Linked DNA regions of Homo sapiens. The protein of the gene in region 1 purifies or fractionates together with the protein of each later gene. This does not show direct contact. Each region holds a gene or a part of one and is shown on either strand. Other genes may lie near its edges.

The links.
Region 2: the proteins of TMCO6 (region 1) and PHYHIPL purify together in Homo sapiens (affinity purification with mass spectrometry; 3 studies listed by BioGRID and IntAct, with this or other methods). This does not show direct contact.

What each region holds. Positions count from the first base shown.
Region 1 is NC_000005.10:140,637,550-140,643,021, forward strand, and holds the start of TMCO6 (transmembrane and coiled-coil domain-containing protein 6), read left to right. Parts: upstream 1-1,901; 5' UTR 1,902-1,978; coding exon 1,979-2,063; intron 2,064-2,189; coding exon 2,190-2,302; exon of another isoform or gene 2,303-2,315; intron 2,316-4,115; coding exon 4,116-4,231; intron 4,232-4,320; coding exon 4,321-4,504; intron 4,505-4,765; coding exon 4,766-4,870; intron 4,871-4,941; exon of another isoform or gene 4,942-5,036; coding exon 5,037-5,122; intron 5,123-5,357; coding exon of another isoform or gene 5,358-5,375; coding exon 5,376-5,472.
Region 2 is NC_000010.11:59,175,348-59,179,442, reverse strand, and holds the start of PHYHIPL (phytanoyl-CoA hydroxylase-interacting protein-like), read right to left. Parts: upstream 2,801-4,095; 5' UTR 2,590-2,800; coding exon 2,484-2,589; intron 2,280-2,483; exon of another isoform or gene 1,853-2,279; coding exon of another isoform or gene 1,825-1,852; intron 1-1,824. UniProt on the Homo sapiens protein: May play a role in the development of the central system.

The DNA of each region.
Region 1 (5,472 bases):
CTTTCAAAATTAAACCCGAGTGACCGTTTCAGGCCATGATGGGAAGTAGGGGTTGAACGTGCCTCATTATACCTCTCTACCGTTAACATCAACACAGACTTTAAGTTTGATAAGAAACATTTTACAACCCATTCTCTCTGAAGCCTAGGATTTGAAGGTTTCCTCTGCAAATAAGAACTTGGGTCTCCACAATCCTTTATCTTAACCCAGACATTCCTTTCTATTGATTTCAGGTCTTTAGAGAAACTCAACCAATTGTCAACCAGAAAAATTTAAAATCTACCTATAAGCTGGAAGCCCCCCACCGCCCCACTTCGAGTTGTCCCGCCTTTCTGTTGTCCCACAAACCAATGTCTTTCTCTCTTTCCCCCTCCCCTCTCTTCCCTTCCTCCTTTCCTCTTTTCTTTTCTTTCTTTCTTTTCTCCCTTTCTTTCTTTCTTTCTTTCTTCCTTCCTTTCTTTCTTTTCTTTCTCTTAGGAATAACGCTCAAAATCCTAAGGGAAATTGAACACTCGAACAAAGGATTATTAGCAAAGCAATTTTACTTCTGCTCAGAGGGGTGTCTGCTTGGCCAGTCGCCATGAGAGCACACCTGAACAAAGGGGCACGAGAGCCTTTATTCCTGACGCAAGTCCTGCCCCTGTACCCTTTCCCCATTGGCCGGGGTCGGGTCATACAATCTGAACTAATCCCGGTTGGCTAAACATTTGATTTTTTTAGGTAATGTGGGCACGTAAAAGAAAGTGGAGAGGAAAGGGGAAGGGGTGCCTGTAATGAACTAGAAAGTTAGTCCTCTTTCCAAATAATGAAAGGAATGTGAGCTGGTACTGATAACGTCTGGTACTGATAACGTCTTGTACTGTGGCGTGCCTCGGCATCTAACGAAGGCAAAAAGGAGAAAAAGGAAAACAAAAGTGTGTGTGGGGGGGAGTACTATGAATTAAAGAATAAAAGATTGATCTAATTATTTGAAGAGAAACCTCATCATATCCCAGATTTCTTTCTTTCTTTCTTTCTTTTTTTTTTTTTTGAGACGGAGTTTCGCTCTTGTACCCCAGGCAATGGGGCGCGATCTCGGCCCACTGCAATCTCCGCCTCCCGGGTTCAAACGATTCTCCTGCCTCAGGCTCCCGAGTAGCTGGGATTACAGGCACCCACCACTACTCCCGGCTAATTTTTGTATTTTTAGTAAAGATGGGGTTTCACCATGTTGGCCAGGCTGGTCTCAAATTCCTGACCTCAGCTGATCCACCCGCCCAGGCCTCCCAAAGTGCTGGGATTACAGGCATGAGCCACCAGGCCCGGCCCAACCAGTGTATTTCTTGAATGAACTGAAGTCTCATATCTCCCTAAAATATGTAAAACCAAGCTGTACCGGACCACCTTGGGCACATGTTCTCAGGACCTCCTGAGGGCTGTGTCAAGGGCCATGGTCACTCATATTTGGCTCAGAATAAGTCTCTTCAAATATTTTACAGAGTTGGACTCTTTTCGTTGACAATTCAATGACGCTTCAAGCGTTTTTGGCAGCTCTCATCAGTGGGATCCGCATTAATAGTGAAACGGCATCATGGCGCTTCCCGCAGTTCGGGATTGTTTTGAACTTTCATCTAGAGCGTATTGTGGGTGGGGAAGTTGTGTTTGCTGAGTAGATTGTGACACTGCTGGCTTGGGTCACTCGAGGTCAGGGATGAGAGACTTTTTTTCCTAGAATTGGTAAGACAGGAAATCAATCAGAGGCAGAGCGACGCCTCTGGCTCTGGTCTAGTGGTGCAGCGTCTCTAGCCCTCGCCCCGCCCACCGTCCCCGCGAGGCGTCCACTCGCCGAGCCCCGCCCTCACCCAGCACCCACCCCGCTCCTCGCGCCCTCCCCGCCTGTTCCCGCCCTGTGCTGAGGCTGCGCAGTCGGTGCCATCTTCTACGCCCCTGGGAGCGTTGTGGCTGCTGTTTCCTTCGGCTTTCCTCCTCCTGCTCCACCATGTGGAGCCGACGGCAGGGCCGCCTCAGGCCCACGGTCTGCGGGGTGGAGGAGCTACGGCGCCGCCGGCGGGAGCGGGAGGCAGGTGTGGGCGGCCGAGGGAGCGCGGGGGTATATGGCGGTCGGGGATAAGTTGAGACCCCAGGCTCGGAGCCGCGGGTTCTGGGTTGTGGTCGTCCTTCCCACGCTCAGCCGGCTCCTCTGCCCCCAGCACTGCGGAAGGCGCGGAGGGAGCAGCAGCTGGTCAGCAAGAGGCTGCTGAGAAACGACGCCCCAGAGGAAGCTGGAGAGGGATGTGTGGCTGCGATCCTCGGGGAAACCGAGGTGAGGGGGCAAGGTAGGGTGCGCTGGAGTCCACGCCCGCTGGCGCCAGACTCCCGGGAGTACTCGAGGTCTGCCCCAAACCTGAACGCAATCCACTCTACACTTCCACGCATCCAGTGGGTCAAGCCAGAAACAGGGGAATCATCCTGCACAACTCTTTGACCCACAACCCCATATCGATCCATCATCAAGTCCTAGTTGTTTACCTCCTGAAGAGCTTTGGAGTCTTTACATGCCTCACCATCGAAGCTGCCACCACCACCTCCTCTCTGGATACTACTGCAGTCTCCTAAAAGGTCACCCTGCATCTATGCTTGTCACCGTCACTACGTCCTTTAAAAACACGTGGAGACCAAAATCTTTCCTGTGCCTTGCAAAGCATAGCATGGTCTAGCCTCTTCCTAACTCAAATTTTATCAGTTTTCTCATCCTACCCACCGTCCTCTTTTTAGTTCCTGCAACGATATATCGGATTTGTGTCTCAAGCCCTTGGCATTCGCTACGTCTAACGTTCGTTTCTTTTGGTATTCTGTCTTGAGAGCCTATTTTTTTTCTTTTCTTTTCTTTTTTTTTTTTTGAGACTCTCGCTCTGTCGCCAGGCTGGAGTGCAGTGGCATGATCTCGGCTCACTGCAACATCCGCCTCCCGGGTTCAAGCGATTCTCCTGCCTCAGCCTCCCGAGTAGCAGGGATTACAGGCGCGCGCCACCACTAATTTTTGTATTTTAAGTAGAGGCGGGGTTTCATCATGTTTGTCAGGCTGGTCTGGAACACCTGGCCTCATGATCCACCCGCCTTGGCCTCCCAAAGTGCTGGGATTACAGGCGTGAGCCACTGTGCCCGGCCACCTACTTGTTTCTTGTAGAATATTAATCATTATCTAATGGTTTGTCTATTGTTATTTCTCCAACTAGACTTTAATTGCAGGAAAACCTAGATCCTGTGTTGTCATTGAAAACCCGGTTGCCTGCACATTATCTGGCATATAGTTAAGTACTCAGTGTTTATTGAATGAGTGAATGAAAGGATTTATTCAGTAAGCATTGAGTATCCCCTGTATTTGTATTATGTTTACGTACATAGTTTACCGTACATACCATGTTGACATATATATTATCAACTTATTCCTAGGTCATACTATTCCATTGTATGCTTACTTTATGCCAGGACACTGTGCTGGTCACTGAGGTACACAAAGATGAAAGGATAGAGTCCTTTTCTTTGAGGTGCTCACAGCCCGGTGAAGAAGACAGATGTCACAAGGGAAGGAAACATGAGGAACAAGAGAAACTCCTAAGTCTCTCAAAAAGAGCTAACTTCCCAGAGGAAATGAGGAGCAGAAACCTGAAGAGAGTGGGAAGCTGGAGAGGGTATCCAGGCAGAAGAAATAGCATGTGCAAAAGCTCGGAAATGTAAAAAAAAGAAAAAGAAAAAGCTCATGTTAGGCTGGTTGTTGTTAGAGTGTAGGTTGCATGGGGAGAATGGCTAGAGGAGTAGGTTTTGCCAGGCTGAGAGGTTTAAATATCCTTGAAAGAACCCTGTATGAAGGCAGGATAGATATTGTTATTCTCATTTTCAGGTGAGGAAACTTAGGTTCAGGTCCCATATGGAGTAAGTGGCAGGTATGGTATTAGAACTCAGTTCTGATTCTCTGTCCACTCCACTGCAAGGTAGATGCTTATTAGTTGCATTAGTGTGAATGACAAGTTCTGAAGGTGTGATATTGGAAGGCTCACAGGTGAAGTGGGCAGAGAGAGACTTAGGACTTGCTTTCTGTGAACCGTGTGTTCTCCTTTCCCTGCCCTGAACTCCAGGTGCAGCAGTTCCTGCGGCAAGCCCAGCGGGGGACAGAGGAAAAGGAGAGAGAGGGGGCTCTGGTCAGCCTTCGTCGAGGCTTGCAGCACCCTGAAACACAGCAAACCTTCATCCGGTCAGTGTGGATGGTGTGGTGGAGGGAGGAGTTGGGGCTCTGAGGGATGGACCACAAGCTAAGCAGGGCTCTGGTACTCACTCACATAGGCTGGAGGGCAGCATGCGGACCCTGGTCGGGCTCCTGACCAGCAACCAGGCCCTGCTGCAGCTTGAGGCGGCTCGGTGCCTGCATGAGCTCTCTCACTCCGAGCAGTCCACTGTTGCTGAGGCCTGCCTGCCAGCCACTTCTTACCTCCTCACCTACCTCTCCAGTCACAGCTCAGACTTCATAGTAAGCCCTGTCCCTTCCTATCTTGTTCTTGGTTTAGATTTTAAAATTGTGCTTTTGGGACCAGTTTGAGCTGGCAGGTAGGAGGAAGAAAACATGTTTGCCCTTATGCCTACAGCCATGGCTACACCCATCATCTCCCCACCCTCTTGTGAGCCGCAAGGATAGCTGCTCCAGCGTCCCCATCACCTCCCCTCCCCATCTCCCCACACGCAGCCTGGCATGAAACAGGCCAAGCCCAGTGCTTTTGTTGCCTGTTCTCAGGAGCTGTGTCTGTATACACTGGGTAACCTGATCGTGGAGAGTGAGGCTGTGAGAAGGCAGCTCCTGCCACAGGGCATTGTTCCAGCCTTGGCTGCCTGCATCCAGGTGACTCCTTTCTTCCTCCCTGGGCAACCCTTCCTTTGCTCCTCCCCACATGCTCCATCTACTTTGGTTAGGTAGCTCCAGCCTCTGCCCTGTGCCAAGGGGCTGAAAGTCTCTGAAGACCTGATGACCCAGCTTCCAGTCAGATCCTTACCCTGTCTACTTCCAGTCCCCCCATGTGGCTGTGCTGGAAGCTCTCGGATATGCCTTGTCCCAGCTTCTACAGGCTGAGGAAGCTCCAGAGAAGATCATTCCGTGAGTAAAATTGTCTTTAGATGTGCAGCCAGAGGTGACCCACTCAGTAGTATAGCTCCCGGATGCCTGAATGATTTCCAAAGCTGTTGCACATTTTAAATTCATGTGTCTGGCTAGGAAGGGCTTTGGGTTTGGACACTTTCCCATCTGGGCAGGGCTTTGGGTTTGGACACTCTCCCACCTGCTATCAGGGTTTGGTAAGAACCACTGGCATCTTCGTGGTTCCTACTTACAGCCCTGCTTCTGCCAGCAGCTCCATCTTGGCCTCCACTCTCCCTCAGCACATGCTACAAATGTTGCAACCTGGCCCAAAGCTCAACCCTGGGGTCGCTGTGGAGTTTGCCTGGTGC
Region 2 (4,095 bases), on another chromosome or scaffold:
CAAAATAAATGTATTCTATCATAAATTATGAAATATAGCTCTTATTAGGTACTTAAACACAAAATAGATCTTCTGTCCCATATTCTGCCACATCCTTTTCTATGTTACATAGTTACAGAAGTAAAATAACGAGACTTGAGTGGAAAGAAAGTGAAAGGAGGGAAGCAAAGGGAGTAAAAAGCAACTAGCTGAAAATCTCTCAATACAAAATGATGCTAAGTAAGGTCTGTTTGACAAATTTAATGCAACATTTCATATGCTGTTCTATTAAAAACAAACGACATTATTCCCCCTAAATTATCCCTTTGAAGCCAACCAAGTTAATATTTTTGGAATTGACATGTAAGATAGGATAACAAAATAAGTTAAGCATTTAACAACATCTCTAAACAAAGTATTTCCAAATTTTATACATCTTCTAGTAGAAGAGTTAGCTCTTTGTATTTGTTGGTGTATACTATTTTATAAAATAAAACCCTATTTAATTAGTCTATGTAAATTACTTGGAAGTCTGCAAATAGTAATTTTCATAGATGTTACTTAGTGCCAGCACCCTCCCCAAAATTAAATGTTACATAATTTGTTCATTTTGTGGGATTCCTAATTTGAAAAGAAACAACTAAAAAATAATACCAGAATAAAATAGCTACTCCTCTAGGGGATCACAGTAAATACAGCATTATTTTTTGCACTCTCTTAACTCTGTGAACTTCATTAAAAAGTTTAAATTTTCCCTAATATCTTTGAAACACGTGGTAAATGCGGTTTTAAGTATTGAGATTACTGGGTTCTGAAGAGCAACAATGAATGCCTAATTCCATTGAGTACAAGAATGAGCTTTTGCTTTATCATTGCAATAAATAAAAATGAAGTCTACTTTTATTAGTCTTGTGTTTCTCTCAACCCTAAGAAAATAAAAATATTTACAACTTGCAATGGTTACATTACAAAAAGTCATTTCATAAAAGTCTAAACTAAAATCCAAATGACTTCCTATGCGTTATTAAAAATAATCTTTACAGTCTATAATCATGCAAGCTTACATATGGAATACCAAAATGATAAATGTTTTTAGATACCATAAATATGTGCACTTACTACCATGGTGACTAAAACAGTCTAAGAATAAAGGAAATACAAGCTGTCTTTGCAAACGTATTTATTTATTCATATACTACACCTGTATCAGAAATTAAAGTGGTTTTGGTTTCAAAAAGTTTGAATTCTGGTTTCAAAATTATTAAATATAAATTTATATTAATAAATATAAAATTTAGTAATAAACAAATTCGGTGCTTGCTTGATATAAACGTGCTGAATAGCAATGCGTAACCAAGTGATTACCATTTAAATGACTTTGGAAACAAGACCTCTGCTCCCTATTTGGATTAGGCTGATAAATTTTATGACCTTACTGTGAGCGTATTAGTATCTGTACATAACTTTGGTTAAAGACATGTTTTACAATCATTACCTCTATATACAGTTAAACATTAATTTCATTTACAGTCAAAAGTATTTGGGGCCCTCTTAACAACATGTGAACTGTGTTTCCTTTGTCAGATGTAGAATTTTACAATTATTCGGCCAACCAATTACTAATCAAATGATTTCTTTACAAATGAAGTTTTGTACCACATTACTAAAGTAGCAGACTCTAACTAGTCCAGCTAACCCAGAAGCACTGTAACTAACCACACCGCACACAGCACTAGCTTATGTCTTCAACGCTCAGACCTGTATTCAATCAATTTCCTTCCACAGGAGCCTGCCAACTTCAACAACAGAATAAACGATATAATATCAACACGCAATGGTACGTACTCGCCACAAAGTCTGAATCACAGCACATATATTAGGCCAATATTTTCGACAGTCTGACTCAGAGCCCAGGAACCATGAAGATTGTGTCTGTCCTTGGTGCTGAAATGCACTGTTTTTCTGCGCCCTCACTGAAAAACTGTCATCCTAATCCCAATCCAAGAGGCTAAAAAGACTTGTTAATTTGGGGAGTCTGAGGATGGGAGGTTTAAAAAAGAAAATGATAAGTTTCTGGAAGAGAATGCCAACTAGTGTGTGTGTGTTGGGGGAAGGGGGTTGCTAGAAACATCCCGAGGGCATTTCCCCTTCAGTGCCCAGAGACCCAGGAAATCCGGACTGCGGCAAAGATCGGAAACGCCTCGTCGGGGCAGGAGCCGCGAGCGGGAACGTCGCCCTCGTCCGGGCCAGGCGGGCGAAGGCGGCGAAGGGCGCCACGGTTGTGGACGGCTACTTTCCGCGCCAAGGCGCGAGCCCCGGGGTCCTTTTGTTTCTGGGGTGAGGGGAGGGCGGTGGGCGGAGGGTAACCCACATCTGCATTTATTTGCACAGAGGGGACAACAAAAGACCCTGCCGCCCTGGCGAGCGGCGTCGGCGGAGCCAGAGTGGCCCCGGCGCCTCGGCGCGAACTCTGTCCCTTTCCTCGCGGTCCCGGCCGCTCTTACCGTCCCGGTCGCACAGCTGAATGGCCTCCAGGCTGAGGTTTTTGATCACCTCCTCACAGGGGCTGGTGGGGCTGTTGAGGGCATGATCCAGGCGCGGCACCTCCATTTTTCCAACCCACTCTGAAGCCCGCCTGCTTCGTATCCAGGCTCTCTCTGCCGGCCGGGTGGGCAAGAAGAGCGGGAAAGGGAGGGGGAGTGGCAGAGGGAGGGAAGGAGGCCTGGGACGCGGTGATGCGGCGCCGAGGCTGAGGCGCGGGGCTGGAGAGCCGCCGCGAAGGCGACGGCTGTGGCAGGAGCTCCGCGGAGTGTGCGGCTCTGAGAGACCGAGCAGGACCCGGCGCGAGGATGGGAGGCGCGCGCTCCCGGCGGGGAGGGGACGCTGCTCTCGGGGAACGTGATGTATAGGGCTTCGACGCGCGCACGCGCGCGGGAGAACGCGCCCACCTGCTGGCGCGCGGTGGTCCCTCCCCCGCCCTTCTGCGCGCACGCGCCCCCACCTGCCCTCCAGCCACTGCCAAGGCAACCTCGCGCGTGAGGCGTCGGGCGACCGAGCGCGCGGGAAGGGCGAGCGCTATACGCCGCGCGGCTGCCTCGCCCTCTCTCCTGGTGATAGCCATTTGGCGTCTTCTGTCTGCTCTCGGTGCCTGGCGAAGCCCGAGTTGGCCCTGAGGCGTCTGCACGGGGAGGCGAGGGCGAGCATGTTTGTTGTTTACCAAGAATTGGAAAAATAAGGGCCCGGACTCTTCGGACTCTCTGTACGGTATTGGGGTGTGGGAGCCACCTCCTCCCCTGAAGGTCCCAGGATACTCGCTGCCCGCACCCTGCGGGCTCGGCCGGACATTCCTCGGAAACAGCTGCGTCTGTGTGAGAAATGAGCGGATTACCTGAGGCGTGGAGGGGTTTAGAGACAGCATTTTGCCAGTCCACGACACTGAAGCGGGGCAAACGTGGGAACTCCTTACTGCCAGAAAGGTGAGGGAATGAGGAGATGCAGCAAGCCTGCTGAAAAGGCGGCAGACATGCTGCGGGGCCAGCAGCCACGGGACCAGCAGCCACGCAGTCTGCCTTCGCAGCGTAGCTTCATTCATTCATGCGCGTAGCAAATAAGTATTCAATGCTCACCCTATGCCATTGTTCTGGGCGTCAATGAAGGGAGTATAAACAGCACCTGCTCCCATGGATTTGGAAGGAATCTTTGCTACAATAGCTAATGAAGATTGACTTGTGCTTCCTCAAGCTACTCTATAACTTGTATGCCCATTGATTTTAATTGCATTTAAGATTCTGCAGTGCACTTAGTGGATGTGCAAACGTTTTAAACATAAAATAGAGGTCACAGCCTATTGACCTCTGTTCCCGTTTGCTTCTTTGGAAAAGTTTTTAGTTTTGTTGCTATCTTGGGATCAAAAATAGTGTCCCCTCTTTTCTTAATGTGCTTATAAATTAATATAAGTTCCCTTTTATTGATTTTCCATTTCAAACATAAATGTTAACCAACAAGTAACAGTTTACACATAGATGTCTGTATGCTGCTCTTTCTAGTCACATCCATTTAGCTATAACATGATGAAGTCTAATTAATTGAAGCTTCAATAAATGGAAGGACCAGCTT